7 linked regions of the Homo sapiens genome follow. The protein of the gene in region 1 purifies or fractionates together with the protein of each later gene. This does not show direct contact. Each region holds a gene or a part of one and is shown in the gene's direction. Other genes may lie near its edges. The genes, in order: DENND4C, RASAL2, STARD13, PTPN14, GAB2, KCTD3 and SRGAP2.

Evidence for each region.
Region 2: the proteins of DENND4C (region 1) and RASAL2 purify together in Homo sapiens (affinity purification with mass spectrometry, with the first as the bait; one large-scale study listed by BioGRID). This does not show direct contact.
Region 3: the proteins of DENND4C (region 1) and STARD13 purify together in Homo sapiens (affinity purification with mass spectrometry, with the first as the bait; one large-scale study listed by BioGRID). This does not show direct contact.
Region 4: the proteins of DENND4C (region 1) and PTPN14 purify together in Homo sapiens (affinity purification with mass spectrometry, with the first as the bait; one large-scale study listed by BioGRID). This does not show direct contact.
Region 5: the proteins of DENND4C (region 1) and GAB2 purify together in Homo sapiens (affinity purification with mass spectrometry, with the first as the bait; one large-scale study listed by BioGRID). This does not show direct contact.
Region 6: the proteins of DENND4C (region 1) and KCTD3 purify together in Homo sapiens (affinity purification with mass spectrometry, with the first as the bait; one large-scale study listed by BioGRID). This does not show direct contact.
Region 7: the proteins of DENND4C (region 1) and SRGAP2 purify together in Homo sapiens (affinity purification with mass spectrometry, with the first as the bait; one large-scale study listed by BioGRID). This does not show direct contact.

Annotation. Positions count from the first base shown.
Region 1 is NC_000009.12:19,334,612-19,339,069, forward strand, and holds part of DENND4C (DENN domain-containing protein 4C), read left to right. Parts: exon of another isoform or gene 1-57; intron 58-365; coding exon 366-494; intron 495-1,658; coding exon 1,659-1,803; intron 1,804-2,074; coding exon 2,075-2,221; intron 2,222-2,989; exon of another isoform or gene 2,990-3,061; intron 3,062-4,458. UniProt on the Homo sapiens protein: Guanine nucleotide exchange factor (GEF) activating RAB10. Promotes the exchange of GDP to GTP, converting inactive GDP-bound RAB10 into its active GTP-bound form.
Region 2 is NC_000001.11:178,439,887-178,444,344, forward strand, and holds part of RASAL2 (ras GTPase-activating protein nGAP), read left to right. Parts: intron 1-1,662; coding exon 1,663-1,761; intron 1,762-2,788; coding exon 2,789-3,343; intron 3,344-4,458. UniProt on the Homo sapiens protein: Inhibitory regulator of the Ras-cyclic AMP pathway.
Region 3 is NC_000013.11:33,104,700-33,108,216, reverse strand, and holds part of STARD13 (stAR-related lipid transfer protein 13), read left to right. Parts: intron 1-1,282; coding exon 1,283-1,459; intron 1,460-2,506; coding exon 2,507-2,624; 3' UTR 2,625-3,517. UniProt on the Homo sapiens protein: GTPase-activating protein for RhoA, and perhaps for Cdc42. May be involved in regulation of cytoskeletal reorganization, cell proliferation and cell motility. Acts a tumor suppressor in hepatocellular carcinoma cells.
Region 4 is NC_000001.11:214,369,571-214,374,028, reverse strand, and holds part of PTPN14 (tyrosine-protein phosphatase non-receptor type 14), read left to right. Parts: intron 1-1,189; coding exon 1,190-1,318; intron 1,319-4,337; coding exon 4,338-4,458. UniProt on the Homo sapiens protein: Protein tyrosine phosphatase which may play a role in the regulation of lymphangiogenesis, cell-cell adhesion, cell-matrix adhesion, cell migration, cell growth and also regulates TGF-beta gene expression, thereby modulating epithelial-mesenchymal transition.
Region 5 is NC_000011.10:78,221,706-78,226,163, reverse strand, and holds part of GAB2 (GRB2-associated-binding protein 2), read left to right. Parts: exon of another isoform or gene 1-961; coding exon 962-1,056; exon of another isoform or gene 1,057-1,092; intron 1,093-1,434; exon of another isoform or gene 1,435-1,554; intron 1,555-2,487; coding exon 2,488-2,752; intron 2,753-3,636; exon of another isoform or gene 3,637-3,968; coding exon 3,969-4,059; exon of another isoform or gene 4,060-4,384; coding exon 4,385-4,458. UniProt on the Homo sapiens protein: Adapter protein which acts downstream of several membrane receptors including cytokine, antigen, hormone, cell matrix and growth factor receptors to regulate multiple signaling pathways.
Region 6 is NC_000001.11:215,618,346-215,622,307, forward strand, and holds the end of KCTD3 (BTB/POZ domain-containing protein KCTD3), read left to right. Parts: intron 1-540; coding exon 541-725; intron 726-807; coding exon 808-946; intron 947-1,711; coding exon 1,712-2,273; 3' UTR 2,274-3,462; downstream 3,463-3,962. UniProt on the Homo sapiens protein: Accessory subunit of potassium/sodium hyperpolarization-activated cyclic nucleotide-gated channel 3 (HCN3) up-regulating its cell-surface expression and current density without affecting its voltage dependence and kinetics.
Region 7 is NC_000001.11:206,461,444-206,465,599, forward strand, and holds the end of SRGAP2 (SLIT-ROBO Rho GTPase-activating protein 2), read left to right. Parts: 3' UTR 1-2,993; downstream 2,994-4,156. UniProt on the Homo sapiens protein: Postsynaptic RAC1 GTPase activating protein (GAP) that plays a key role in neuronal morphogenesis and migration mainly during development of the cerebral cortex. Regulates excitatory and inhibitory synapse maturation and density in cortical pyramidal neurons.

The DNA of each region.
Region 1 (4,458 bases):
ACCTCCTGGCTTCAAGCGATTCTCGTGCCTCAGCTTCCCAAGTAGCTGGGATTACAGGTATGCACCACCATGCCCATCTAATTTTTGTACTGTTAGTAGAGATGGGGTTTCACCATGTTGGCCAGGTTGGTCTCGAACTCCTGACCTCAGGTGATCCACCCGTCTCAGCCTCCCTAAGTGCTGTGAGGCGTGAGCCACTGTGCCCAGCCTGAATAGGTCTTAAAAATAATTTGCTAAGATGCTCAAAGCAGAACAAAGGAGAAAATACTGCTTAATAACTTCATGGAAAGAATTCAGTAAAATCTCTACAATTCACAGATAGATTAGTATACTAATTACTGACACTGATTTTTTTTTTTTGTTAGGTGTGCTATCGAGTAGTGATGCAGCTTTGTGGACTTTGGGGTCATCCTGTTTTAGCAGTGAGAGTCTTATTTGAAATGAAAACTGCTAGGATAAAGCCTAATGCTATTACTTATGGTTATTATAATAAGGTAAGTAGGATCGACATTAGGCAAGATGTGGTGTTTATTAAGAATGATTATTTTGTATACCTTTAGTTATTCATGAAACTCCTATTAAAGGAAGTTTTGGGATATAATTTTTTAATAATTTTTATAATTATTAAAAATTGACAAAAAGTATATATATTTATCATGTACAATATGATGTTTTGAGATATGTATATTGTGGAATGGCTCAATCGAGCTATTAAATAATTAACATATGCCTTCATTGTTTTGTGGTGAGAACACTTCTAATCTCTTAGAAATTTTCAAAATACAATACATTGTTATTAACTGTAGTCCCCATGTTGTTCAATAGATTTCTTGAATTTATTTCTCCTACTGAACTGAAGTTTTGTATCCTTTGACCAACATCTTCCAGTGTCCCCTTTCCCCTTACCTCCCAAAGCCCCTGGTAACCATACTTCTAGTCTCTGCTTTTATGGGTTTCACTTTCCTGGATCTCATATATATGTGAGATCTTGCGGTATTTGTCTTTCTGTGCCTGGCTTATTTCACTTACCATAATGTCCTCTGGGTTCATTCATATTGTCACAAATTACTGGGTTTCCTTTTTTATTTCAGGCTGAATAGTATCTCGTTGTGTATATATACCACATTTTCTTCATCCATTCATACATTGATAAACACTTAGGTTGATTTCATATGTTGGTTATTGTGAATAATGCTGCAATAAACATGGGAGTACAGATCTCTCTTCAATATACTGATTTCATTTCTTTTGCATATCTATACCCAGTAATAGGATTGCTGGATGATATGGTAGCTCTAGTTTTAATTTTTTGAGGAAACTCTATACTGTTTGTGAGGAATCTTTTTAATGGCTGTACTAATTTGCATTTCCACCAAGACTGTGTAGGGGTTCTTTTGTCCACATCCTTAATCAACATCTTTTGTTTTTTTTGACAATATTCTAACAAGTATGAGGTGATAAGATATCTCATTGTAGTCTTAATTTGCATTTCTCTGATGTTTAGTAATGTTTAGCATTTTTTAATATACCTCTTGGCCAGTATAACTTTTTATATTTGTGTATATATATATATAAACATACACACACACATATATGTATGTATTTTTAAAATCAGATATTGCTAATGAACATTATTTTTACCCTTATTTTACCTTTAGGTAGTCTTGGAGAGCCCGTGGCCTAGCAGTACCCGCAGTGGTATTTTCTTATGGACGAAGGTACGGAATGTGGTACGTGGCTTGGCACAGTTTAGGCAGCCGCTTAAAAAGACTGTGCAAAGGTCACAGGTCTCCTCAATATCAGGTAATACATGTGATTAGAAATATAATTCCTTACTGAACCATGAGCTTTATAGGCATATGAATTTTTAGCTATGTGAAGTAGAAAACTTAAATTCCGGTAGACATTTTCACATACATTTAAAGACAGATTGTCTTAGTCCAAAATTATTTTTGTTTTTTTCCAGAAATTTAGAAAGTGTTCTGCAACTATAAATGAACTGTGGGTCAATCATGTTTAGTTTAAGAGATTATCAATGCATGAGTTATTGAACTGCTATTGTCCTTATCTTTAGCTCTTCAAAATGTCACAGGTGGAAGTGATGGGGACACGGTGAGCCACGGTAGTGTGGATAGTTCTAATGATGCTAACAATGGGGAGCACACAGTCTTCGTCAGAGATTTAATCAGGCTTGAGTCCATTGATAATCACTCTAGCACAGGTACTAAAATCCAGATTTTACTAACCCTTCACTTACTCTCATGTTAAATCTTTCCTTTTTCAAAAAGCTTCTTCCATTCTTGAGTTTGTGTGATATGACTACTTTAAAAGTACTGTATGCTTACAAGAGAAACAATACGAGTCTGCAGATGACTTCTGTTTATTTCCTATAGTACAAAATTAGTATGGGAGTGCTGTGCACAGTGCTCTAGCATGATGCTTCTTTGTATTTGTTTATCATTAGTTTGTGAAAGTGTATGCTATAATTAGGAATCATGAGCTAAGGAACTTGAAAATTAGTGACACAACTTGCAAATCTTTTTAAAAAATTAAATAGAAAATGTATCTTAAAACTTCAAGAGTATGAATATTAAAGAGGGAAGGAAGGAAGTCACACAATGAGAAAAAGTATTCTCTTTAAGTTACATTTTTTAAGATCTGAGAAGTTATTGAAGCTGCTTTTATGTACATAGCCATGGGAATAATCCCTCTCCTCTGAAGTTAGAAATAAGTGTAACTAAAGTAGCACGTTGTGCAGATATATGTGTGTTACATATCCTTCTTCTTGTGTTGTTTTTTTGTTGTGGTTGTTTTTAATATCTCAAGCCTTCCTTTAAAAAGAATTCTGGGTCTAATTCCTGTGCTTCATCTGATGAACTTGTCTCAATGACTGAAGTTTCCTTTTCTCTGCTCTTTGTTGCTTTGCTTTTTGCTCTGTGCTGTTTCTTGGTGCTGCATTTGTCCTTGGCTGTCATGGTGTGGGGTGCAGACAGACTTATATGACGTGAAGCTATGGATACACGTGTGCATTAATTCTACCCTTGAATGTTAACCACATCAGGTAATTTCCCATTTATTAGGTTAAATTTTGCTGACCTGCAAGGGTGGGGGAAAGACCTTTCATTGTATTTTAAGTTTGTTTTGAGTGGTAAACAGTTTTCATTTTCTTGCCTTTTCTCCTTCAGATAAATGTAATCATATATAGACTCTTGAAAATATCCAGCTAACTTTTTATGGTCAGTTTGCAAAGCATGTTTGTTATCTTATTTGAAAATATATTATGCCTTGCTAAAATTCTTATTTTGAGGTTGGTTTGTAGCATCAGTGTGACAAATAGTGTTATAGGCATTGAAGAATTAATTGTTTCAGCTGTTAAGGTGGTGTGGCCATTGCTTTCCAAAACTTATCTGCTGAATTCTTGTGCTAAAAACAACCTTCACATAATTACAGGAGCATGTGTAAATTTGAAAGTCAACATAAAGCTACAGGTTACAATCCTGTTTGTAATTAACTTCCTCAGTTTGCCATCATGTTTGTATATTATATTAACAAATAAGAATTTTTATGAAACTTTTATTTTAAAGCCACCATATTTTATTTCCTCTAGTATTTTTTTCATGATACTTGTAGAAGAAATGGGCTTCATGTATAAAAAGCAAAAAAATATATTTTTTTGTATGAAAACGTTTACCAGGAATAGTAATAGTAATACATAAACACCTTTCCCCTTATTCCTTCAGATTTTTAAGTTTACCTCATTATAGAGGCAATTTACTCCTTTAATGGAAATACCAATCTCCTAGTAATGCTGGGTAATTGGTATAAAGACTTCAATAGTTGGGCACAAACCTTCAGGTCCCCCTTATATATATTTTAGCTGCATTTCAAATGACCGAATGCCACATACTGAATTTGCAGTGATGGTGTGTCTCTGTAGAACTTCTGGCGATGCCATTTGATGCTTTTGGAGTCTTCAGCCCAGGTGCTTAAGTTGCTCATTTCATTAAGGATTATCTCGTGGAATCTTTCCACTTGGTACCTGGTACAGAGTCACTTAGCTGTTAGGGGCATGTTTGGTTTTAATTCACCCAGGTCCCAGCCTAGTGTTCATTTCATGGCACCACATTGCTTTACCAGACTTTTTGAGGGAGCTAGTAAAAAAGTGACTGAAGTTAGTCATTCTAAGTAGTAGTATTTAAAGACATTTAATTCTTTTGTTGTATGGCAAACCCAGAGTCTGAGTGGCAGTGTAATAAGTGATGGAAAATGGAGGTACTGCATATGTTATTTTATGTGTCTTTTATTGACATCTTTATACTGTTTTCTCTAGTACCTGATCTTAGTTTTGATTTTAAAGTATAGAAGTATAAAGTCAAAAAAGACTTTTAAAATATTTGAAATAACTTCAAACTTACAGAAAAGTTGCAAGAATAATACAGAAAACTCTCATATCTTTTA
Region 2 (4,458 bases), on another chromosome or scaffold:
GGTAAGGATGTCACTCATCATGTTATTTTTCTAACCACAGCATCAGTGGTTCAAGATCTGAGACCATGTTTTTCTTATTTATCCATCCATCCATCCATCCATCCATCCATCCATCCATCCATCCTAATTCCAGGACATTTTGACCTAAATGTCTTATTTATTTTTGAAATCCCCTGTAACTAACCCAGACCCCAGCACATTGCAGGTGCCTGATTTTTGAATAAACAAAATTGCCAACTATCATAAGGTAATTTCTCCCTTCCAAATATGTACTACTAGCCAGTTACAAGTAAAATTCAAAAACTATATATACATGTATTTATACATACATAGAATTATTAGGGCTGAGATTTGATTAATTAACAAGAGCTTACTAAGTGACTACAGATGAGTCCTATACTAGATGTTGTAGAAGTCAAAAGATGTTTGTTTGGTTCCTCTTCTTATGGACCAGCACTGTCCAAAAGAAATATAGTACAATCTGCATGCATATCCAAAATATTATCATTTCAACATGTTCACTATCAGAGAAATTGTTTCCTTTTTTTTTAAAACTAAGTCTTCAAAATCTGATGTGTGTTTACACTTGCAGCACATCTCAATCTGGAATAGCCATGTGAGGCTAGTAGCTGCTGTATTGGACAGAGCATATAATCTGATCGGATTTATTAGGTTGTGACCAGAGATTGAGTTAATAAGTGAGCAGACTTCAGCAATTTGGGCAAGACATTTATTGGTGTTCTTTTTTATAAAAATCAGTTGAACTTTCTTGTATTTGCGGAACTCAGTTCATTAGGCTGTATATCAAGCCCAGAGTTAGGTGCTAAGTATATAACAACATATTTCATTTTTAAAGGACTGTGTTAATAGTGGTCAGGCTAACCTAATAAATGACTAGAAATCAACAGGCTGGTTGCGTAGTGGAGGAAAAATGGGTTCCAAAGATAGTAATTCAATATTAGTAACTCTTCAATTTCATTTAGCACCCTTCTATAATATAGTGAGGACAGTCTCAAGAAATCTGATAAGCTGTTTCAGAAACTCTCATCCTTTATTACCTATTTTTTACTAACTCAAAGTTGAACATATTTATTTGCAGGTAATTTAAGTTATTGCCTAAAAGGCCTTTAATTTTGATTTTTCTGAACCATAGGCCAGTTTTAATTTCCTTGGATGAATTTAAAATGGCCTTTGTTCTCATACCTGGAAATGGATGTGGATGCTACCTAAGCAAAAAGCAGATGTAGATGTAGATATAAGTATCGGAAAACTAGCAAAGATCATCTTAGTTTCTTATGGTATGATTTAGGTTCATAGCATATGTCTAACTCACAGCTTTGCATTCCTTTTGGCCTTGTCTACTTTCAATAAAATTGGACTCTTAGTACATTTTCGTCAGAGGATGAGACTAACAATAACACTAAATTAGTATATTAATTTTTTAGTATTGGTAAGGATGTCGCTCATTAGGTTATTTTTGTAACCACAGCATGAGTAGTTTGGGATCTGAGACCATGTTTTTCTTATCTATCCATCCATCCATCCTAATTCCAGGACATTTCGACCTTATCATTTAAGAGTTAGAGGTATGCTGTGAACCCTAATGACAGAGCCCTGAAATCCAGTGTTTTCTTTTTCTTATGTCTAATTTTTATGTTGAAGGTTACCTACTTAAGTGGAAGTAAATGCTTCAGCTGTAATTCTGCTTCTGAGAGAGACAAGTGGATGGAAAACCTTCGCAGGACAGTTCAACCTAATAAGGTAATAGTAGCTTCAAGTATCTAAAAAATGTATAACTTTGTAAGCAGTTAATTGATAGAAGGTAAGTGTGGTAGTAATACCTTAATTTGTCTATAGCTTGAGAGTTTTAAAGCACATTTATATGTTATGCCATTTGTAGTAAGCCCTTATTATATCACCATAAAGAAGTATCTGAGACTGGGTAATTTATCAAGAAAAGCAGTTTAATTGGCTCACGGTTCTGCAGGCTTTACAGGAAGCATGGTGCTGTTATCTGCTCAGCCTCTAGTAAGGCCTCAGGAAACTTACAGTCATGGCAGAAGGCAGAAGGGGAGCAGGCACATCACATGGTGAAAGCAGGAGCAAGCGAGAGAGAGAGTGTGTGTGTGAGTGACTTGGGGGGAAGGTGCCACACACTTTTAAACCACCAGATCTCACAGGAACTCAGTATCAGGAAGATGGCACCAAGGCATGAGGAATCTGCCCCCATGATCCAAACACCTCCCACCAGGCCCCACCTCTAGCACTGGGGATTACAATTCAACATAAAATTTGGGCAGGGACAACTATCCAAACTGTATTATCATTTTAAGCTAAAAGCAGTCTTACTGCAGATATTATTGCCATGGTTCTACCAGCATGGATAAAAGGACTCTGAAAAGTTAGGTGAATTGGCCATGTCAGAAGCTAGTACATGATAGAAGAGGGACTAGAATACGAGCTTCTTAACAGCTTATCTCTTTTATTTGCAGATATTAGACTGGTTATATGAAAACTTACCGTTACAAAATGATATTTTCTTAACCCAAGTAAATAAAATAGAATGAACTATATATAATATATATAATGAACTATATATAATTCTTCAAGATTCTAATGCATGCTTGTTTAGAGCTTGCTGTTAACCTAAGCAATGAGATAGCAATCCCTTTCATTATTTGTTGACTCCCCTTAATAGAGTACCTAATGAACATTGCCAACTTAAGAAAAAAATGTTTTTTTTTCTGCAATGTCAGCTCTGAAATTCAGCTTTGTTGCCTCTTTATAGGACAATTGCAGGCGAGCTGAAAATGTTCTTCGTTTATGGATCATTGAAGCCAAGGACCTTGCCCCTAAAAAGAAATATTTCTGCGAACTGTGCCTTGATGATACCCTCTTTGCTCGTACAACCAGCAAGACCAAAGCAGACAATATTTTCTGGGGCGAACATTTTGAATTCTTCAGCCTTCCACCTCTTCATAGTATCACAGTTCACATTTACAAGGATGTGGAAAAAAAGAAAAAAAAGGACAAGAATAATTATGTAGGGCTAGTCAACATCCCCACTGCCAGTGTGACTGGTCGCCAATTTGTAGAAAAGTGGTATCCAGTGAGTACACCTACACCCAACAAAGGAAAGACAGGAGGACCTTCTATTCGGATTAAATCACGTTTCCAAACTATCACCATTCTGCCTATGGAGCAATACAAAGAATTTGCAGAATTTGTCACCAGCAACTACACCATGCTGTGTTCTGTCCTTGAGCCAGTAATTAGTGTGAGAAATAAAGAGGAGTTGGCTTGTGCCTTAGTGCACATTCTTCAAAGTACTGGCAGAGCCAAGGTAAGTGGAAAAGGGGGATTGCAGTACCTGAAGTCTCTTCCCTACCTTTCATAAACCAAGATATGGATATTGTAGAAATCCAAATTAGAGAAATGTGCTTTACTATTGGTCAAAACAAGAAGAATTAAGAAGAAAACCTATTAGATCCAGAAAAGATGAAGATTATAAAACTAAACAAGTAAAATGGAGAGACCAGCAAATATTTAAAGCCAATTTGCATGAAACATAGATAACACAGCCAGCTCTTTCTTGTCTGACAAAATAAATGGTAGGATTGGCACGATAACCCTACAGCATGTTCAAGGTTCCTTATCTTTAATTTAGTTCTAGAGTGTTGTATGGTGGTTTTCTTCCTCACTGTATTTTATTTAAGTTTAACTGATGACTGTATCCTCTAGGCACAGAAGGAAGTATTCCAGAAGCATATTGAGTATTAGCAAGAGTCTTTGTGGGATTAAAATCTATATTTAGAATAAAAATCCAAGGGATATGATACAATTGGTAGCTGTTTCATGATACACTTATTTCACCTTGGATAGAAGTAAAAACTCAGGAATATTTTTTATTTAAAGGAGAAATATGCTGGTTGTGGGAAGAACAAAAACTAGTTGAGAGAGTCTTTGACCTATGAAGGATATTAACTAGGAAGAGTTACCGTTATACTGTATGCAAACTGGTCATGATAAAATTACATCTCAGATCCAAAGAAACTCACAGCTAGAATAATGTATTTAGAACCAAACAAAGTACTATTACTATTTCTTGATATGTCGGAATATATCAATATATTCAATATTTAGTCTCTTATCTGGCTTCTATGGATTATAACTTTTGTGTTTAAATTTACTTATGATAATCTTGGGCATTCTGTCATTAAAAAGCTTATGAGTTTGGAGCGAGGTGTCACTGAAATTTTGAATTGTATGGATATATTTCTACTTTTCAGTTGCTCAAGGTTCAGAATATACATTAAGACTTTTTTAAATGACTTAATACTGATTTACGTACATTTTAGGTAGAATAAACACCCATTTAAAGTGGAAAAGTTCAGTAAGCTTTGACCGATTTTGCACCCATCGAAACCACCACTATGATCAAGATACAGAATGTTACCG
Region 3 (3,517 bases), on another chromosome or scaffold:
AGCATGTATGAGGCTGGTCACCTTTCAGGATTGCTGCATTTGTCTCTCATGTCACACCCATTGCTAGCTCCTCGGGAGCTTCCGCTGAGAGTTGCTGGAGATTCTCCCATTTATCCCAACAAATCTCTACAACTTTCAGTCGTCACGATTTATCACATCTTCGTTCATGAAAAGAGTAGTCACAGCATGGAAGTCGCTGAGCATTTGTGTGGGGCTTGGTTATTCCCAAGTTCTTGTCAAGCACATATCACCATTTCTCTTCCTGGTGTAGGAGGACAGGGTGAAATCATGGAGGACATGACTTAGTAAGGGAATAGAATTTGTGGAGTAAATCATGGGAATTCTAATAATGCAATCTATTATGATAGATCCCTGGGGTAGAAAGGGAAGTTAGAGGTTGTTACAGAGATGTTCTCATAGCTCCTGACTCCCATCCACAACCTTTTTTCAAGGGGTAGCCACCTCTGCTTGAATAGCTCTAGGAACAGGGAGCTCACTGCCTCCCAGGGCAGCACATTTCATTTCTGAACAGTGCACATTGTTAGACAGTGCTTCTCTCCTGCACAGAAATGTACTTTCCTATCTCTGCCTTCTGGAGTCAAATCAACCATATTCATTTCTTCTCCCACTCAAGAGCCACTCAAGTATGTGAAGACAATAAGCAGGCCCACATATGTTTCTTTTCCTTCAAGCTAAGCGTACCAGTTCACTTCTCTTTGAGCATGCCCTCCTCCAGGAAGCCTTCTCCATATTCCTCCCGCAGCCCCCTCTATGTGATCCCAGAGCCCTCTGTGCATAATCTTACCAGTGCATTTACCTCAGTGCTTTTAGAATTCTGTTTAGAGTGTCAGTATTTTTCCTCCTGGGCTGTGTATATCTTTATGTCCTTGGTGGCTTCTCAGAGACTGGCATGTCTATCTGCTTAATTGATGTCTGCTGAATGAATCGAATGAGTGAGTTCTAATAATAAACTGTAAAACCACCTCTTCGAGAATGGGCAGGAGCCTCTGCAGCTAAGCAGAGCTGGGGATTCCAGATGCAGATCTGAAAGCTGCAAGACCATTTCTGGCCTCACAGTCCCAGAGCTGAGATCCTTGCTTTGAAATTCTCTGTATAAACTTTACACAAGCTTATGAAAGCCATTAGCTTAATCCAAGTCACTAGCATTGGAATCTGAGCCCAGGTTGTTGGCAGGAAAATATAAACACAAACCTTAGCTCTGTGTTCAGGTTCTTCTTCCTCCCTCAGTCATGACTCTGATGTGCGGATTGTTTTGCTACAGGACCTGGAAAACTGATTTGCCCAAAGGAATGTGTACCCTGGTGTCCCTCTCCGTGGAGCATGAGGAAGCCCAGCTCCTGGGTGGTGTGCGAGCAGTGGTGATGGACTCGCAGTACTTGATAGAACCGTGTGGCTCTGGCAAGTCAAGACTGACTCACATCTGCAGGATAGACCTGAAGTAAGTGCTGACTCCCTTAATGGCAGGCTCAGATCTTGGGAGTCTCAGCTTGTACAGCACATCCAGCAGGGATGTCACCCTGATTTCTTATTTCACTGTATTTGTTTCCTCATTGCCATTAGTGTGCTTTCATAGGTGGATATGTATGCCTCCCCTCTGTCTTTCCCCCTTTCCTGAAATTCTGACATTTCTCCTGCAACTGTTTGTCTTTCTTTATTTTCTGTTTTATGCCTACTTATATTTCTGTCTTTCTCCCATGAAACACACACCAGAAACAGAGCCTGACACATAGTAGGTACTCAGTAAATCAGAGTTTCCCTCTCTTGTGTTTCTTTTTGAGACAAGGTCTCACTCTGTCACCCAGGCTGGAGTGCAGTGGCACCATCAGGGCTCACTGCAACCTCCACCTCCTGGGCTCAGGTGATCCTCCCTCCTCAGCCTCCCCAGTAGCTGGGACTACAGCTGCCCACCACCACACTCAGCTAATTTTTGTATGTTTTTGTAGAGACAGGGCCTCGCCATGTTGGCCAGGCTGGTCTCAATCTCCCAACCTCAGGTGATCCGCCCACCTCAGCCTCCCAAAGTGCTGGGACTACAGACATGAGCCACCGTGCTCGACCATGTATTTCTTTTATGCCTGTCCCCTTTTGCTGCTCCCTCTGGTAGTTCTTTGAGAAGTAAGTAACTTACATCCAACCCCTTCAAGGCATTCATGATGCTAAACCCAGTTCTTGGTCTGGGTAGACAAAACGGAGTTTTCACAGTAAATTCTGGATTTCATCTGAATCTTTTCATTTTACCCCAAGATGTTGGTATCATTTTAAAGCACCTGATGAGTACTCAAATGACAACATGAATACTTAGCAGCCAGGACGTTTTCAAGGCCCCTGATGGCAGAATGACGTCCTGAGCCCCTCAAGGCAGCAGCCCGAGCTGTCTGCAGGTTCACTGGTCATCGGGGCCCAAGGGCAGCCCTGTCCACCAAAACTAATTGCTGTGATTTGGAAACAAACTTTCCCACTTCCTTTCTGATTTCTTTCCCCACAGAGGTCACTCCCCAGAATGGTACAGCAAAGGCTTTGGACATCTGTGTGCAGCAGAAGTTGCCAGGATTAGAAACTCTTTCCAGCCCCTCATTGCTGAGGGCCCAGAAACTAAAATCTGAGTTTTGCCCAGTGTGACATCAAACTCAGGGAAGAGGAAGCTAAAGTGACGAGTGTGGCAGAGAGTGTGCATGTGAGAAAGCGAGAGAAAGAGGAACTGAAGGACGCGGTTAATGCCTAAAAATGGAAACGTTAAGAAGTTGGAATGTTGGAGATGCAAGAATTTCCAAGAACTTTCTTAGCCTTCCTGGAGATGGCTACATCCCTACTAATATAATTTTAAAATGAGAACTTTATATATATTACTTAAAATTAAATGGACTATTCCTTGTGCATTGCCTAATTTGCTATTTAAAGGCTTCTAAGAAGCGTATACCTAACTGTAAATAAATGTATGTATAGCATATGTACATATGTGTGTATATCTCCATCTTTACTGTATATATGTAAAATACCAATTTTATATAGAATTGTGTGTTTTGAAAATGACGGTGTCTGACTCAGTGAGTCCCTTCCTCACACAGTTCTTTCCAAGTGGCTCTGGGCCCCATCTCTCCACTGTCCTGTAAGCTGTGCAGAACCTGCTGCTAACACCAAGGTGTGAACATGCCCTGATGCCTAACCAAAGATGAGTTAACCAAAGGAAAATAACATTAAAGGAGACTTATGTGTTAACGCTTTGTTTCTGCTATTCAAAAACTGAGAGTGGAGATCTGGGATAAAGCAAGGAAATAATAATTACTCCTCCTTAAAGCAAATGGGGGGGTGAGAAGTCATTACCAAATTTAAAGCTAGATGAGGAGTTGCCACTGGGCCCAGTAAGATGGAATTTCAGTGAGATATGGACCACCGGAGTCAGCGAGAGTGACTGAAACAGAAGCGATACCTCTCGCTCCCATGCCCATCACTACAGACCCCAAGTCAAGATGAATATCATAGCCTTTACTTCTTCACA
Region 4 (4,458 bases), on another chromosome or scaffold:
GGGTACAACTTCTTATTTATGGTTCTCAGCAGCTAGTATTTATAGCTGTAGAATTATCTTCCCCTGATCACCCTGAGCTGCAGGGGTAATAATTTTATTATCCAAAGTCATGTCATGACTGTAGTTCAGTTGGATGCTGTGGTACTACCAAGGTGAAGCTATTGATAAAATATATGCTGTTGACAAGAGCATTCGTAGCATCTCTGCCGTGCATGGCACCACAGAGCAGCAGTGACAGCAGAGGTTTATGATACACTTCATCTCAGATCCACAGGAGAAAGATAGTGCTCCAAAAGGGATGTTGTTTCATGATCTTTTTTTTTTTTTTTATTGTTTAATTGGATGCCATGAAGCACTGCTTTTCAAACTGGATTACAACACAGTGGTAGAATGTGAAATCAGTTTAGTGGTCATGACCAGGTGTGTGTGTGTGTGTGTGTGTGTGTGTGTGTGTGTGTGTGTGTGTGTGTTTCAATGAAATCGACTAGAAAAGAGAAAAGAATGGAAAGTGTTAGAGTACATTGCACATAGTAAGCAGTAACTATTATTTCTGTAACAAGTAAATCCTAAGTTATACATGTTCATATATATGCATCTATACATGTGTGTATGTGTATGGTTTTTAATAGGCACTAGTTTGCATATACTGTGAGTTGCAAACAAAGATCAGGTAAAGGCCAAGCCTGGTGGCTCAGGCCTGTAATCCCAGCACTTTGGGAGGCTGAGATGGGCGTATCACCTGAAGTCAGGAGTTCAAGACCAGCCTGGCCAATGTGGTGAAACGCCATCTCTACAAAAATACAAAAATTAGCCGGGCATGATGGCGAGTGCCTGTAATCCCAGCTCCTTGGGATTCTGAGACGGGAGAATTGCTTGAACCCAGGAGGCGGAGGTTGCAGTGAGCCAAGATCGTGCCACTGTACTCCCGCCTAAGCAGCAGAGCAAGACTCAGTCTCAAAAACCAGGATTAGATAAATATTTAATAGGCTTGAGTGGCAAAAAGTATTTTCATGTGAGAATGTGTCACTACACTAGCCTCTGTAGTCTCAGGGTTTTTGTTCATTGAACTAATTCATTCGGCCCCAAAAATATATCCAAGGTTTTAAGGTGGATACAGATGGACAGGTGATCAGCAGGTAATGTTGTCCGGACTTGGGGTTTATTTACCGATACTTTTCTTGGTTTTTAGGTGGTGGTTGGCGGGGCAGAATGGCACTACATAGCCACCCAGGGGCCCCTGCCACACACGTGCCACGACTTCTGGCAGATGGTGTGGGAGCAGGGAGTGAATGTGATTGCCATGGTCACTGCAGAGGAGGTAAGGGGAATGGCCTACTCCACATCCTTTTTCCCCAGGGGAAAGGGTGGCCAGAAGATGGGCTTTGTGCTGTCAACTTTGCTACCCTATCCTTCTTCCTGCAGTGCTGTTTCTCTGCACATGCTTTTCTCTTTGGTATACATCTGTTTTCTTACTTCCAGATAGATATTTTTTCCCCTGGAGATAATTGATTGTTGTAGCTTTTCCTCCTCCCATTTTCATCTGGCTTTTAACTCTTTTCCTTGGATTGTAATGCACTAAACTGAAAATAAAACAACAGAAAACCAAAAATGACAGACTTTAGTTCAACCTGCTGACTTTCTGTGCCAAACGAAAACAGTGATCTTTCCACTGGAATTTGGGAGTCTCAGGCTGCTCTGGGCAAATCGACATAGACGCCCAACTCCAGGCACCCAGCTCCACATGCCATCATCCTTATCAGCTGAAAAGAGACCAGAAGCCGTTGTTCCTGGAGAGTCCTCTGTTCTTTGGGGGAAGAAAAAATATCTTTTTCTTCTTTTGCCAAGCCAAACATAGTTTTTCTGCTGTAACTAGAGAACTCTATGTGATGTTATAAAAAACCAGCCTACACTGCCAGTCAATCCAGTCGGTGTTGAGCTTGCTGTCTTTGTGGGGAGAAGTGTTGTATTTCTTCTCTTGTCACATTCTCAAAATTTCTTTAACCACCTTCTTTTATTTCTTTCATTAAATTCCAATTTATGTTTTGAAATCATTCAAGGGACTAGTTTCATGTGTGTTTACCAATATCCATGGTATTGCAGTGGCCTTTCCTAGCTATGTTAAAGGGGTCAGGAACAAAGAAAATTGGGGAGGAAAAAGTCATATTTTCCTTCATTGACTGTGTTGAGCATTTGCTTCTCAGCACAGTCCATTAGAAGAAAATAATGAAAGGGACATCAGGCTCTTTAAAGCCAGTTGTACTTCCCTGGGCTGACCTGTTTGACCTTCCCACAAAGAGAATGAATCCTCCTTAAAGCTTCTAGAATAGATTTATCACCTTATCAGCTCACACCATTGCAAGGCATTCATTCACCTAAATACAGCATACCATCTGTGCTAACTTCAGGAGTACACGGTAAACGAGACAGGCACCATCCCTGTCCCCATAGAGCTTATGTCCTAGTGGGAGGGACATTCAAAAGTGAACAGATAAAATCAGTGCAGATAGCAGTAAGTGCCGTGGCAGAAATGGAAAACTATAGTCCAGAGTGGGTCTGGGTGAGTACAGGTCCTCCTGCCTCATCCCTCCTCCTCTTTGTGTGGGTTTCAGCTGCAAAACTGTCATTCACGCTAGGGGACTCCTACTAAAGGGTGGCTTCACGATGTGCAACCCTGAGCTCCAGGCTCTGTATCATGTTGCACACTTGCTGGAAGGCTGGAAGTAAAAACCTTATTAATAGTAGCATAAATTCAAGGGAGAAAATTTTTAAAAATGGAAAAAGGGTTAAGAAAGAGAGTGACTGGGGTCTACTTTAGATCAGGGGGGTGGCCAAGGACCCTCTGAGGGAGTGGCATTGGAGGTGAGACCGGAGTGACAAGGAGCCAGCCTTGCCAAGACAAAGTAGCATCTAGTAATCTGTGGGACAGCTGGGGACTTATAGTCTTTTAAAATCCATAACTGATTTAGACACTCAGCAGAAATGTAAATTCGAGGTAAATCTGCTTTCACAGGATTGGTAAATAAAAGAGGAAGGTATGCTTCCAATTTAAGGAGACTCAATTAAACCAAATGAAGCCAGGCAAGGTAATTTACATATTCCGCAAAGATGTGTTGCTTTACAAGTGGGCTTTACAAGAGGAACTCTAATGTTCCTGTAAACAGCCATCAGGGTTCCCAGAGCCTGTCACCACTGCAGCTGTATGTGTTCAGTGCTCCTTCTCTCTCACCACCTACTCCTTGCCCTGAATCTCCTCAGCTACCACCTCCTCCACACTCCGCCCCTTCTCCAGAGATTTTAAAACGGTGCAAAGCTGAAACATAGACCTTGTGTAAATGGTTGAGAATACATATTCTCAGAAAAGTTTATAAAATCAAGGGAGAAAGAATGGTGATGTAAGCAGCTGTTCTCAGTTCTAGTTGTAGATTGAACTAAAACGCATTGGTCAGGCTGAAACAAATGTGAAATCGACACTAGATAAAGACAGCATCGGTAGTCAGTGTGCTGTAACAGAAAGAGCTGTGCGCTGAACATCCGAAAGGAGTAACGTGACCTACAGCGATTGCTGGAACCCCTTCCCGCCTTGTTTAAAACCTTTGAATGACTTCCCGTGCCCATGGGATGAAATCCAAACTTTCCACCATGGACTGTGAGGCCTTTCCAGTCTCCTCTCTGATCGCCTGGCCCCTCACATGTCACACTCCAGCCACCCCGAAGACCTTCGTTTCTTTTTTCTTTTTTTTTTTTTTTTGAGATGGAATCTCCCCTCTGTTGCCCAGGCTGGGGTGCAGTGGCGTGATCTTGGCTCACTGCAAGCTCCGCCTCCCGGGTTTATGCCATTCTCCTGCCTCAGCCTCCCCAGCAGCTGGGACTACAGGCACCCGCCACCGCGCCTGGCTAATTGTTTGTATTTTTAGTAGAGATGGGGTTTCACCATGTTAGCCAGGATGGTCTCGATCTCCTGACCTTGTGATCCACGCGCCTTGGCCTCCCAAAGTGCTGCGATTACAGGCGTGAGCCGCCACGCCCGGCTGACCTTTGTTTCTTGAATGCACGAAGCTTGTTCCTGCTTCTAGACTGCACTTGCACTTCTCTCTAACATTCTACTGCACCTCGGTTGTGAATCTTTTAAATTTTCCATTGATGTAACTGTCATTGTAAATTGTGTTATTGGTCTTAACTAGCATGTATAGGATCTACCCTGTGGTAGACACTGCAGAGTGCTACTGAACTAGCGATTTAGAAGCTATTTGCATTTTCTTCTGTCTTCATATCTTAGGATTAAAAGGATGAGAGCTTCCCTTGACCTATTTCCAATTTTGCTTTTATATGTGATTTAGGAGGGTGGACGAACCAAAAGCCACCGATACTGGCCCAAACTAGGTTCAAAGCACAGCTCAGCCACCTATGGCAAGTTCAAGGTCACCACGAAGTTTCGAACGGATTCTGTTTGCTATGCAA
Region 5 (4,458 bases), on another chromosome or scaffold:
TCATTGTATTTTATTCATTTGTAAATCAAATCAAAGATTTAAAAAATAAATTCAGAAGATCAGTCCAAACTGGAGTGAAACCTGTGTGGACTAACAGACTGCTAAAGCAAAACGAGGTCTTAATATTTTCTAAATCATACTTGAATCTCTTTGGTTGAAGTCAAAACTTTTATTTGAAGTACCTAAATTCTATTGTTACTTGTTTTCCACTGAGAGTATTCCAACTCTGCATGTAACCTCCTCTGTATGATGAAAAAATAGAACAATATTAATTCCTTTCATTTTGCATCTTGCTTTATGGTTTGCAAAGCCTTTTCTTGTCCATCCTGTTGTTTAAGCCAGGCAGAGAGGTTGGTGGGACAAAACCTCCTTGTCTCCATCTCACATGAGGCCAATGACAGTTAAGAGACTTAAATAGAGTTGCAGAGTCATTGTGCCAGAGATGAGACTCAGACCCTAGAGTCCCAGCTCCTAGTTTAGACCTCTTTGCCGTCTTTCAATCCATCGACAATTTGAGCAGTCATACTCCGTTTTGGAACTGAGATGATAAAGACATACATAAAACATGTTCCTGCCCTTCAGAGCTTACATCTCATTGGGAAAATAAAACCAACACATATAAATCAGGACAAGTATTGTTACTGTGGTGTTCAGAGAAGTGATGGCTGGGGTGAGCAGGACAGGTGAGTGGTGTAGGAGTCAAAGGAGAGGTGCATAGATGAGGGTAGAGTAGTCAAGGACAGCTTCTCTGCAGATGCTAACACTGGAGCTACATCTAGAAGCCCAGGAGGAATTTTTGAACTGAGGAGTGATGTGTTCGAAGAAATTCCTTATCATTTGGGGTTGAGAGTAGTATCTTCTGGAGTATCAGTAAGACCTTGAACCACACTGGTGAGGGTATGGGTAAGTGTCAACACATGAATCAACCATGAGTACTTATGAATCCTCCTTCCTCTGTCAGCTTCTTCCTGTGAGACCTACGAGTACCCACAGCGTGGTGGAGAGAGTGCAGGCCGGTCTGCTGAATCCATGAGTGATGGAGTTGGCTCTTTCCTGGTGAGTGTGGGTTAACCCAAGGGTCCTCAGGCCGGCCTGGTTAGGTAAAAGGTCACACCTTATGGAATTAAAAGCACAACCCCAAAAGATTGATGGCGTCTCCATCTTAGGACCCTGCCCAAGTTCTTGTCTCAGTTCAGAACCCTGCGTTGAGTCTTTGGACAAGTAAGATATAAGTATTCTAGTCTGGAAGAAATGTATGTGCTAAGGTAGACTGGATTACAAGGTTCACCAACCTTGTAGGTAAGCAGAGGATCTAGAATGCAATAGACCCAGGCTGCACGGTGGGGGAACCTCTAAGACAGCAACCTTACCCACGTGGCCTCACATGCAGGAGGGAGGCTGCAGTGTGAGACTCCAGGCAAGGGTGGTACTCACAGTCAGGCTAAGTGGCAGAATTATGGCTTGAGTGCAGGATCCCAGGCTGCCCTCTGGAAGATGCTAACCGCAGTTCTCCAAGGTGTCAGGCAAGAAGACCAGGGCCTGGCTTCAGGCCCACTGAAAAGACAGTGAAATCAGGTAACCAAGGCAGAAGCAGCTTAGTTGTATGTCACGGCAGATAGAGCAAGAGTTAGAGGAAGGCTGGGATTGCTGTATCACACAACTCTGTAGAAGCTCTGACTGCAGCTTGGTGGTCCCCTAGGTGCCTGGAGTGAGCCCCAGGTACTTAGAAACCTGGACTGGGGAAACACAACTGGCCCCAGACCTCACCTTCCAGAGCCAGGACTCCTAATATGCTCCTTGTTCTGATCCAGGGCCTGAGATGCTGACCTGCCAGTGGTGAGTCTGGACTTGAGGTGGAGGGCAGGTCCTGAACCAAACCTACAGTCTATGGACTATGCCACCCACAGTGTTGGTCAGGCGTCCAGAAAGCCAAGTGGACCCAGTCACCAAGAATATTTTATACTCTAGATTTATCAAAAATTATTAGTGGATGCCAAAGGATCGTGAAGGCTTGAAGGGGCCCACAGACCTCATATATTCTTGTCTCCCACTCTGCTTCCTTTTTTTTATTTTTTATTTTTTGAAACAGAGTCTCACTCTGTCACCCAGGCTGGAGTGCAGTGGCATGATCTTGGCTCACTACAACCTTGGCCTCCCAGCTTCAAGCGATTCTCGTGCCTCAGCCTCCTGAGTAGCTGGGACTACAAGCATATGCCACCACGCCCAGCTAATACTTTGGATTTTTAGTAGAGAGGAGGTTTTGCCATGTTGGCCAAGCTGGTCTCGAACCCCTCACCTCAAGTGATCCACCTGCCTCAGCCTCCCACTACTCTGCTTTCTTATTTGGTCTCCCCAAGGTCTCCCTTACAGCTTCAAAGTATAGCTAACCCAGTCATGACTTGTCTTGCCTCATTTACAAAGTCTTACCCCCTTCCTGTTTCTTCTTGCTAGTAACAGCTGTATTTCTTTCACTGTTCCTCTCCCTAGCCAGGGAAAATGATTGTGGGCCGATCGGACAGCACCAATTCTGAAGACAACTATGTGCCCATGAATCCAGGTTCTTCCACCCTGTTGGCCATGGAACGAGCAGGTGATAATTCCCAGAGCGTCTACATCCCAATGAGCCCAGGGGCCCATCACTTTGACTCACTTGGCTACCCATCAACAACCCTTCCTGTGCACCGAGGCCCCAGCAGAGGAAGTGAGATTCAGCCACCCCCTGTCAACCGCAACCTCAAACCTGATCGGAAAGGTAAGTCCATTCTTTCCCCTGTCCCATCTCTGGACAGTGGCTAGGGACTCTTTCCATTTGCTTAGGGGTCATGTGGATCCTGGACTTGAGAGGTGTGACTTGGGGCAAATCATGTAAAATCTGAGTCTCAGTTTTCTTATCTGTGAAATGCAGATGGTAATTCCTACCTCCCAGGTTTGCTGCAAAGGAGAGCATCTAGGATAGTACTTTGGTACATAGCAGGCGTTCAGTAAAGTCAGCTTTGTGCCCCCTGCATGTAGACCAGGCAAGGTCCTCGTCTGCTACAATCTCACTCTCCTGGCATTGGATCAGTGGCAAGGATTCAAAGGGAGGAGTAGGATAGCTAGGCAGAGATAGCCCCCTGTGGGTCTGGCCAACAGGGAATTCAAATCTTAGCATTTGGAACTGAAGCCCTCAAGCCCTTATGGCATCTACCTTCCTCCACTGTGGCTTGCACCGACCTGGCCAGGAGCAGCAGGGAGTAGTCACGGTGACCATCTATACTTCAAATATGGTCTCTTGGCTGGGCGCCATGGCTCACGCCTGTACGCCTGTAACCCCAACACTTTGGGAGGCTGAGGCGAGTGGATCACCTGAGGTCAGAAGTTCGAGACCAGCCTGGCCAAAATAGTGAAACCCCGTCTCTACTAAAAATATAAAAATTAGCTAAGCGTGGTGGCAGGCGCCTATAGTCCCAGCTACTAGGGAGGCTGAGGCAGGAGAATCACTTGAACTCAGGAGGCAGAGGTTGCAGTGAGCTGAGATTGCGCCGCTGCACTCCAGCCTGAGCAACAGAGTGAGACCCCGTCTTAAAAAATACATATATGTGTGTTAATATATAAATAGTATATATTTTTATAAATATTAATATATTAATATATAAATATATTTTATATATAGTCTTTTATTTTTAAATGAAGTCATAAATTGAGGGAGAAAAATCTGTTGTCAAACCCTGTGTCCCCACTTTTGATTCTGAAAATATAATTACCATAGATACAGCAGAAAGAATATATAATTTGGAATCTGAAGACATGACTTCAAGGCTCATCAATATGGGCAAAGATTATACAACCTCGCTGAGCGTCAGTTTCCCTGTGTGAAACTGGAATGACTTTGCAGGCCTTTATAAACATGCTCATGTGTTATATATAAGGTGTGTATGTGTAGCATTATCATTACTGGCTGATTACCAGACTTTCTTTTCCTGCTCCAGCAAAGCCAACACCACTTGACCTGAGGAACAACACCGTCATCGATGAACTCCCCTTCAAGTCACCTATCACCAAGTCTTGGTCTAGGGCCAAGTAAGTGCGTATGTGTGGGGGTGGGAGCTTGGAGTCGGGCCATTAGGGAAAATGAGTGATGTGGTAGCTGGCCTGTGGGCCGGGACAGCTGGATTCTGATGCTAACGCTATCATTAGCTGATCATGTCTCGATGTCTTGTGGCTTGGTTTCCTCAGCTGTAAAAGAGAATAATTATACCTGCCCTATATCAGATCTTAATCTGATGGAGTGTGCAGCTCTAATGGCTGAGGTCTGGGTGTGTGAGGGTCAGGGCCCAGCTGGAGGCTAGAAACATGGCAGCAGCCATGCAGCTTCCCCAGTGTTAACTCTTCCTTCCCACAACAGCCACACCTTCAACTCCAGCTCCTCCCAGTACTGCCGCCCCATCTCCACCCAGAGCATCACCAGCACAGACTCAG
Region 6 (3,962 bases), on another chromosome or scaffold:
GCTTCATATTCTATTCCTGTATGCTTCTCAAATTCATGTGGATTGTATTTTTTTTTGTCTATTTTTTTGACCTTGCGTTTGCCTATACTGATTTTTCTTTTTTAATAAACTCCCTCAACTCTTTTGAAGTAGGCTGGGATAACTAATTCAGTCAAGTACAATTCAGTTAGCCCTTACGTGACTTTGGAACAATCATTTGCTGATGTTATCCCATTGTTTCCTGATCCGTCAATGTGGATAAAAATTGTTCTCTCTCAGGTTCTTTTATCTTTTATGAAAATCAACTAAAAAGTCATAAAAATCTTTTTTTGAAGTTGAGTATTATCCTAATGATGGATACAATATGGGCCATCTCCATAGAGCTGTATATTTTTTCTGGTTTCAGATTTTAAAGATTTACACATAAATTTTAAATGATTTTTTAAAAGTCTTTTCTAGTATAACATGTTTGCTTTCTTTCTTTCTGTCTTTTTAGTTTCATAGCTTCTTTTTAAATAATTGCTCATTCCCATCAGGGCTCTTTCTGCTTTTCTTTTGCAGAATATGTGAGATCCAGGCTGTTGACTGTACTACAATATCCTCATTTACAGTGAGGGAATGTGAGGGATCCAGTAGGATGGGCTCAAGACCAAGGCGCTACTTGTTCACAGGCCATACAAATGGCAGTATTCAAATGTGGGATCTGACCACTGCTATGGATATGGTTAACAAAAGTGAAGATAAGGGTAGGTTCTCATACAGAAAGATGTTTGTCACAAGGTTAAGCTTTTCACTTAAGTGATTTTAATGACTATTTGTTCTCCTAAGATGTAGGTGGTCCAACCGAAGAAGAGCTACTCAAATTACTCGATCAATGTGATTTGAGCACATCTCGCTGTGCTACTCCTAACATCAGTCCAGCAACTTCCGTAGTTCAGCATAGCCACTTACGAGAATCAAATTCTAGGTAGGTTAAAGAGTTGGGTATTATAAACAAAATTTATTTCTTTTGGGGAAATTGACTGAAATATTGTAATCACATAGTTGTTCTAGAAAGCCATACTTCTCAAGGTACATTTTAAATTCAGACATTATGTTAACTTTTTAACAGTTTTACCAAATTTCTTGATAGGCATATCTGGTTCTTTTCATAGAAAAACATTTTTACCTTTTAACTTATTTTGTGAATTGCTGCCCAATTGGAAGCCTATTATGTGATCAAGAATTTATTCAAAGGAAATTAGGAAAATTACATGTCACCTTGGTTAGTATGTGAAGCTTTAATTATTGTCCTGTCTCAGGGACAATATTTATCTGTGGTTCTATTATGTTGTCTAGTCTTACATTTAAGCATTATGTAATTTTAATACAAAGTTCCATAATGTCTTTTTAGTTATCATATTGATAAATTCCAAAGTCTGAAGAACCAAGGGCTAAATACTGAATTATGATGGTTTCACATTGGTTTCAAGGATTTTTCCTCCCATCTTTTTTTTAGCTGTTCAAAAATTCAGCATGTCTGTGAATATATGATGGTATTATTTGCATTGGTAATTTTATATACCATCTATATAATAAAGAGTACTTGATAAGTATATTTTTACAAAGAGAAATATGGATATAATACACTTTATGTATTTATATAGTGTGTTTTATTGGTTGTATAATTAATATGTTCCTGAGAAATCACAGAGTGAAATCTGAACTGTCATTTTTAAAAACTGTATTTCAGCCTTCAGCTTCAGCACCATGATACCACCCATGAAGCAGCTACTTACGGTTCCATGAGGCCTTACAGAGAAAGTCCTTTATTAGCAAGGGCAAGAAGGACTGAGAGCTTTCACAGTTATAGGGACTTCCAGACTATTAATTTGAACAGAAATGTAGAAAGAGCTGTCCCTGAAAATGGTAACTTGGGTCCAATACAAGCTGAAGTGAAAGGGGCAACAGGGGAATGTAATATATCTGAGAGAAAGTCTCCTGGAGTAGAAATAAAAAGTTTGAGAGAATTGGATAGTGGATTGGAAGTGCATAAAATAGCTGAAGGTTTTTCAGAATCCAAGAAAAGGTCATCAGAAGATGAAAATGAAAATAAAATAGAGTTTAGGAAGAAAGGAGGATTTGAAGGGGGAGGATTCCTTGGAAGAAAGAAAGTTCCCTATCTGGCGTCATCACCAAGTACTTCCGATGGAGGAACTGACTCACCTGGTACTGCGTCCCCATCTCCTACAAAGACTACTCCATCTCCTCGGCATAAAAAAAGTGATTCTTCAGGTCAGGAGTACAGCTTGTGAAAACTCACCAAAATGAATAGTTGTTTCGTTACATTTAGATGAAAGTTAAACTTTACTGAATTTCAGTACATTAGTTTTTACACTAAAACTTTACAAGATAAAATTGGACTTCATTTAGTATCTTTTTAACAGAATTACTTGGAATAATGAGATACAATAATCATATCTCTTTTGACATTTTGGAAATTTTTTTAATTTTACAAGTACATTTAACAGATCATTTATAAAGCAGGAGTCCATTTTAACACTTACCGACTTTTTTTGGTTTGGAAACATATTACCACGTCTTAATAGGATGGTGCCCATATAGGTGAGCATCCCTTTAGATCATGGGAACCAGCAGACTGCATTCCTAATCTTCATTATGCCTGAGACTTGTCTTACAATGTTACCTTTAAGTGAATCACATAATTGTCTTTGGAACTTGGTCTCCCAACACTTATTGTGATTGCAAAGTGTTTACCAGATATTTGATGAGGTGCTATGTTTGTGAAAAACATATCATGTAATTCAAAAACACTATTGATATTGAATACCAGATACCACTATGTAGTAAGTCTTTTAGGATGATTTTAATTTAGTCGTGCGTCATTTTCTGATTCTCATCATTGGGAGATCTTAAATCTTAGCAAGCATTAGCAATATTAAATGCCAAAATTCCATTGAAACTTTCAAGTTGGAGCAATTGTCTGTGTTTGAAAAGATGAAATAAAAATAATAATCAAGGGCAAAGCTTTGAGTGCCCAGAAGGGAAAGCTGTACCAGTTGCTAACCTGTCTTGTTTCAGGAGCCACCATGTTTTTTTTTCAGTGTTAACAACAATCATGATAATTAAATTAAAACACTAGTTTGTTCACTTGTAGGACTGCAGTTCTGAATTTTGGGTTAAAGGTTTTGGCTGCTGTAAGAATGTGAATTTGAATGTATTTTGAATTGTAAGAGCAAAAGAACGTTTTTGTACAATTTTTTTTCATTTAATTGGAATGATCTTCAGGTTTCTACAAATAGGGTAATTGTAAATTTAAAGCATTAGCATTTATTGGTGAATAATGTATATATCCCCATTCCAAGAAATATAAGTGAGTGAAGTTGAAATAAAATCTTTAAAATTTACTATATTGCCAGTGGTTTCACAACAGTTCTCTTGTATTTATTTATCAATTAAATCAAATAAAAATGATTATGTCAATGCGTTTTCAGTTATTTAAGTAACAGTTCTGTTTAAAGTGTGCTATATATGTTTGTTCATTTCTTTGCTTCTTCCCATAATTTAAAAAAAATGGGGGGAGGGAGAACTTAATATATGTGGAAAATAAGTTATTATCAATGAAAGAAAATATTAGGCAAAGCATAATTTCAAAATTACTAAGATTGTAATTATCTTACACCCTTCTTCCTCTTTATGACAGTTATGTGAAAGTTGGGTGGGCAAGTAAGAAAATGAAAGAAAAAACTAGACTCTAGTGACCAGGAATAAAAGGCCATTAAAAAGAAGATAGTAACTATTATGTAATAGAATCGCATAAAAAGGAAACTGACTATACTAGATTGCATTACAGTACAAGTCAAATCGTTTCTTTCTTTTGCTTACAGGAGATTGAACCTTGATGCAGTGGTTTATGTCTGTCTACTCTGACACTAATTTCTCAGATTGCCCCCATTATGCCTTAATTTTTTCATTATACCTAC
Region 7 (4,156 bases), on another chromosome or scaffold:
GACAAGGGGACTATAGGGACTGACTGTTATTAAAATCTTCCTATTTAACTAGCTTGGGGACTTCAGTTGAAAATTAGGTTCTAAGTTGTTCTTGCAGGAATTAGCCTCCCCGTCTCCCAAAACCTTGAGAATGAAGCCCTTGGTATCGCCTCTCCCTTCCCACTGCCCTCTGCTTCCCCCAGTCGTCGTAATTCAGCCAGCTGCAGTCCGTACCGTTCTTAGGTTAGCCAGAGACAGGTTTTCATTATCAGGTCACTGTGAAATCTGGTAAGGCAGTCCTGAGGACATGGGCTCAAGTCTCAGTCCCCTCAGACCACGGTGATGCCTTGACCAGATGGTTGGCTACTGCCATCCAGCTTTCAGTGGCATCTTGTTTTGGGAACTGATTATAGAGAATCATATATAGTCCAGTCTTCATTTTACATACACACACATATTTTACACACACACACATTTTACACACACACACACACACACACACACACATATGTTTTTCTAGTCTCTGGCATGTGTAGCCTCTCCTGGTCATAGACCAGTCTCTTTGTAAGTTATTGTGGCAGTTCACACAGTAGCCACCAGGGGTCTCTGTTTCCATCACAAACTTTGTTCTGTCTGGGCCAGAGAACCTAGCCTTTGAAATCTCTCCATCATATGAAACATAACGGGATGGGACAATCCCGTAACCTGTTTGGGGTTGGGGGCTTTCTCTCTGTGTTCTTTCCATTGATGTGAATTGGTCATTGGTGTTTGCTCTTGCCTCTCCTCCATCCCCTAGAAGTACACCCCCGTCTTATTAAGGAGCTTTTAAAGTTTTTCTGAATGTATAGACATTTCTCGGGTTCCTACCTTTGTCTCTGATGGACCATTTTCCATTTAAGACATTTTCCTGTATAAGACAGTTTTATAGCTGGTTCCTTTTAGGGTAAAGAGTCTTAAGAGAGTTTTATTGTGTCTATGGCAGGTTTGGGAAAGGTAAGAAATGGGTCCTTTTTCCTCCTAATGTTTTTGGCACTTAAAACATAAAATTCATTATCCTATTAAAAAATTAAATTCAGCTTTGCTAATCCAGAAATTGTTCCCAAATGAAAACTTGTTTTAAGTCCACCCCTTAGTTTCCTTATTTTACAAGGTCTCTCTTCAGGGACCAACAGGGGCTTAGAGAGCCTTAGTTAGATTAAAGGGAGACCCTACCTCTTAAAACCAGTTTTCATTTATGCAAACAAGGACAATTAAGGGAACCCTGACCCCACAGGCTCTCAAGTCTTCCCAAGGCCAGAATCGAAAGAAAATTAAAATTTGAATGCTGAATATTCTGGCTCTACTCTGGCCTTTTTTCTGGTTCCCTTCCAAAATGCACAAATCATACCCTTGTCTGCTCCAATTCAGTCTCCAAACCTGGTGCCTGTGCTCCTGGCCCCCCTAGCATCATGCTATCCCAGGAGTATCAGGACCAGACACATCCACAGCCAGGCTCATGGGTCTCAGACAGCAACTTGAGTTAAAGCTGAAACTCATCCTTCTTCTCTGTGTTTTCTGGTTTAAAAGCTGCACTTATATTTTAGCCTTATTATTTTCTGTAGTTCCGGAGAGATGGTGGGTTGCCATTCTGGTAGGAAAATCTGAGTTTTCTTATCTTTGACCTAGAAGAGATTCTTTTTGGACCAACCTGCGAAATTGGTAGTTAGGTCTATGGAAAGTGGTAGGATTTTTTTTTTTTTAATCCTGTGCAAAGGAAAAGAGGTGCTTTGTGGGAAATCACTAATGAGAAGGCTAACCTGCAGCACCAGAGAAACCTTTCCAAGTGCTAGGCAGGAGAACTGAAGAACTCTTTCAGTGAAGTGAGTCAGCCTAGAAGAGGCAACCCACAGTCTTGATTTTTGTTGCTGTTTCCTGACCTGTTCTTGCCTGTCACCTGGGCCTACACAGGTCCCAAGCCAACGGGGCTTTCATACCCAAGGATCTGTTTCCTTGCTGAAAATGAAACCCTATCTTTCACTTTACATTCCTTTCAATCCAACTGATCAAAACTGGTACCCACACTTGCCCTTTCTCCCTCTCTCCAGCACACTCCCCTCTAAGAAAGTAAAAGCAAAGCTTTCTTAATGGCAACACTTTGGGCCTGTTCTGTTGCTCCTGCCTTATTTCTCTTTCAACCCTGTACATGACTCGTGTTCACCATCCCCTTGATCAGTGTCCATCCGCGCTAATTTGCATCATGAACTGAACAGTGTGTGAGTGGTCACCTACTAAACCCAGCTCTGGGGGCAGAGCTGTCTTCCCCATCTCTGGTGCTCCTAACACCTGTGAGATGGTCCTGTCGAGAGGACTAGGAACCGATAGGAGGAGAGTCCTTCTCGGCAGAGCTCACTGCAAACAACTGGAATTGAGGTTGCACACTGTGATTTTTACACCGAAAAGCCAAAAGGAGCTGGCCATCCAGGGCCTAGGGAGACCAGCCTTCCTCAGCTATGCTTGCCGAAACCAGCATGATGCTTCAAAGAGCCCTGCTCCACCCCTCATGGCATGGATCCTTTTCCTGGTGTGGACTCTGAAGGGTCAGTCTTCGGGGAAGAGAGGTGGGGTGGGGCTACTAGCATCCCAATTTAGAAAATAGAGGAGTTTGTAGCCAGCAGCCTGTAAACTGGAAACACTGGTCTCAGCCAACCTCCTCAGGGCGCCCTGGCTTCTCCCCAAGGAGATGAGGAGCGGTGATGCCAGCACCGGGATGCGCAGAGCACTGGAAGGGCTGGTGCAGATCTACTTCCCATGCAGAAGAGAAGTCACATCTTCCAGGGAATCGCAATGTTGTGGCGTCTGACTTGTATGTCACATTTGTGTAAAATGGTATATTCTTTAAAATAGTGTTGATAACTGGAATATTGTATGTATGCTTGGAGATGCTTTGTGTGAACCTAAGACTGTCACTCAACAGATGTTGGATTGGGGAAAATCCAAAGCACAACTTCAAAATAAAATACATTTTTAGGTTTCGATGCTGCAGTTCATATCCCTTCTCTCCTCTCTGAAATCTCTGATTCAGGACTCCAGCTGCCCAGGAGGGATTTTGATTCGTCTGTGCTAACAGAGCCCTGCCTGGCAACAGAGAGAGCAACGAGATGACCTTACAGCCAGCCACCTTCTCCCTCCCCACCAAGGCACAGCACACTTGCATTTAGAATGGGAGGTTTTTCCCCCAGCATTTCCATTTAGCCTGTGTGTGGATTCTCATAGGTTTTGTAGAGAGTCTTCCCGCTCACCATTGGACTGCCTGTTGCCATGAGAACCGTTTCCTTCACAGAATCCACCTTCCTTGTTTTCAATAAGGACTGTTCTCATTTCTATCTCTAGTCAGATTTCCTCACTTCAGGGAGTGGGGCCTAAGAAGTTGCTTAGAAACTTGGCAAGCTACAACCAAGGGTGACTAGAGATTCTCTTTCTTCCACAACCAAAGCCCTGAGTCATTCTGCCCTTGACAGCCCTCTGCCTCTGGGAGAAAAGCTGACCAATATGCTTGTGCTGTTGGTGGGAGTGGGGGATACAGGTGATGTTTTCTCTCCTACAGATTGTGAGTCTAGCAGAGCTTAAGTTCAAGGGTGAAGTTATTTCAAGGTAACAACTTCAAACAAATCCTAGAGCCCCTAGGGCCAACACTTATTTTTAACAGGCTTGTTCTAATAAAAGATGCCCCTGGGGATGGATCACATCTCTCCAAGTGGGTACCCTATGTTCAGTGGTAATGCAAGGAATCCTACCCCCAGCTCTAGACAGAACACTTTACAACCCCTTCTTAGGTTTATCATCCCTATCCGTTATTCATATATCTTCTATTCAGCTCTGCTATGCCCTTCCAGCCTACTGTCTCTTCCCTTCCCCTGTTTTCATGGAACAGCTACATCTTGAGCTTCTCTTGCTGGGCCCTTGGCCTTGGGTAAGTCAAGGCCAAGGCTGCTGTGCCACTCTGTGGTAGGAATGAGTTCTCCCTGACTGCAGGGAGAATGGGGATGGCCAGGAGCACCCCATAATAGCTGCGACATGGAGCCAGTTTGTAGGCTGTGAGCAGGGGACCAAAGAGCCCCTTTTCAGAGGGTCCTGAGGCAAAGGCAGGCTATGCTTTTTAGGTCCTCTTTATCCATATATGGTTCTTTTTATCTCATAT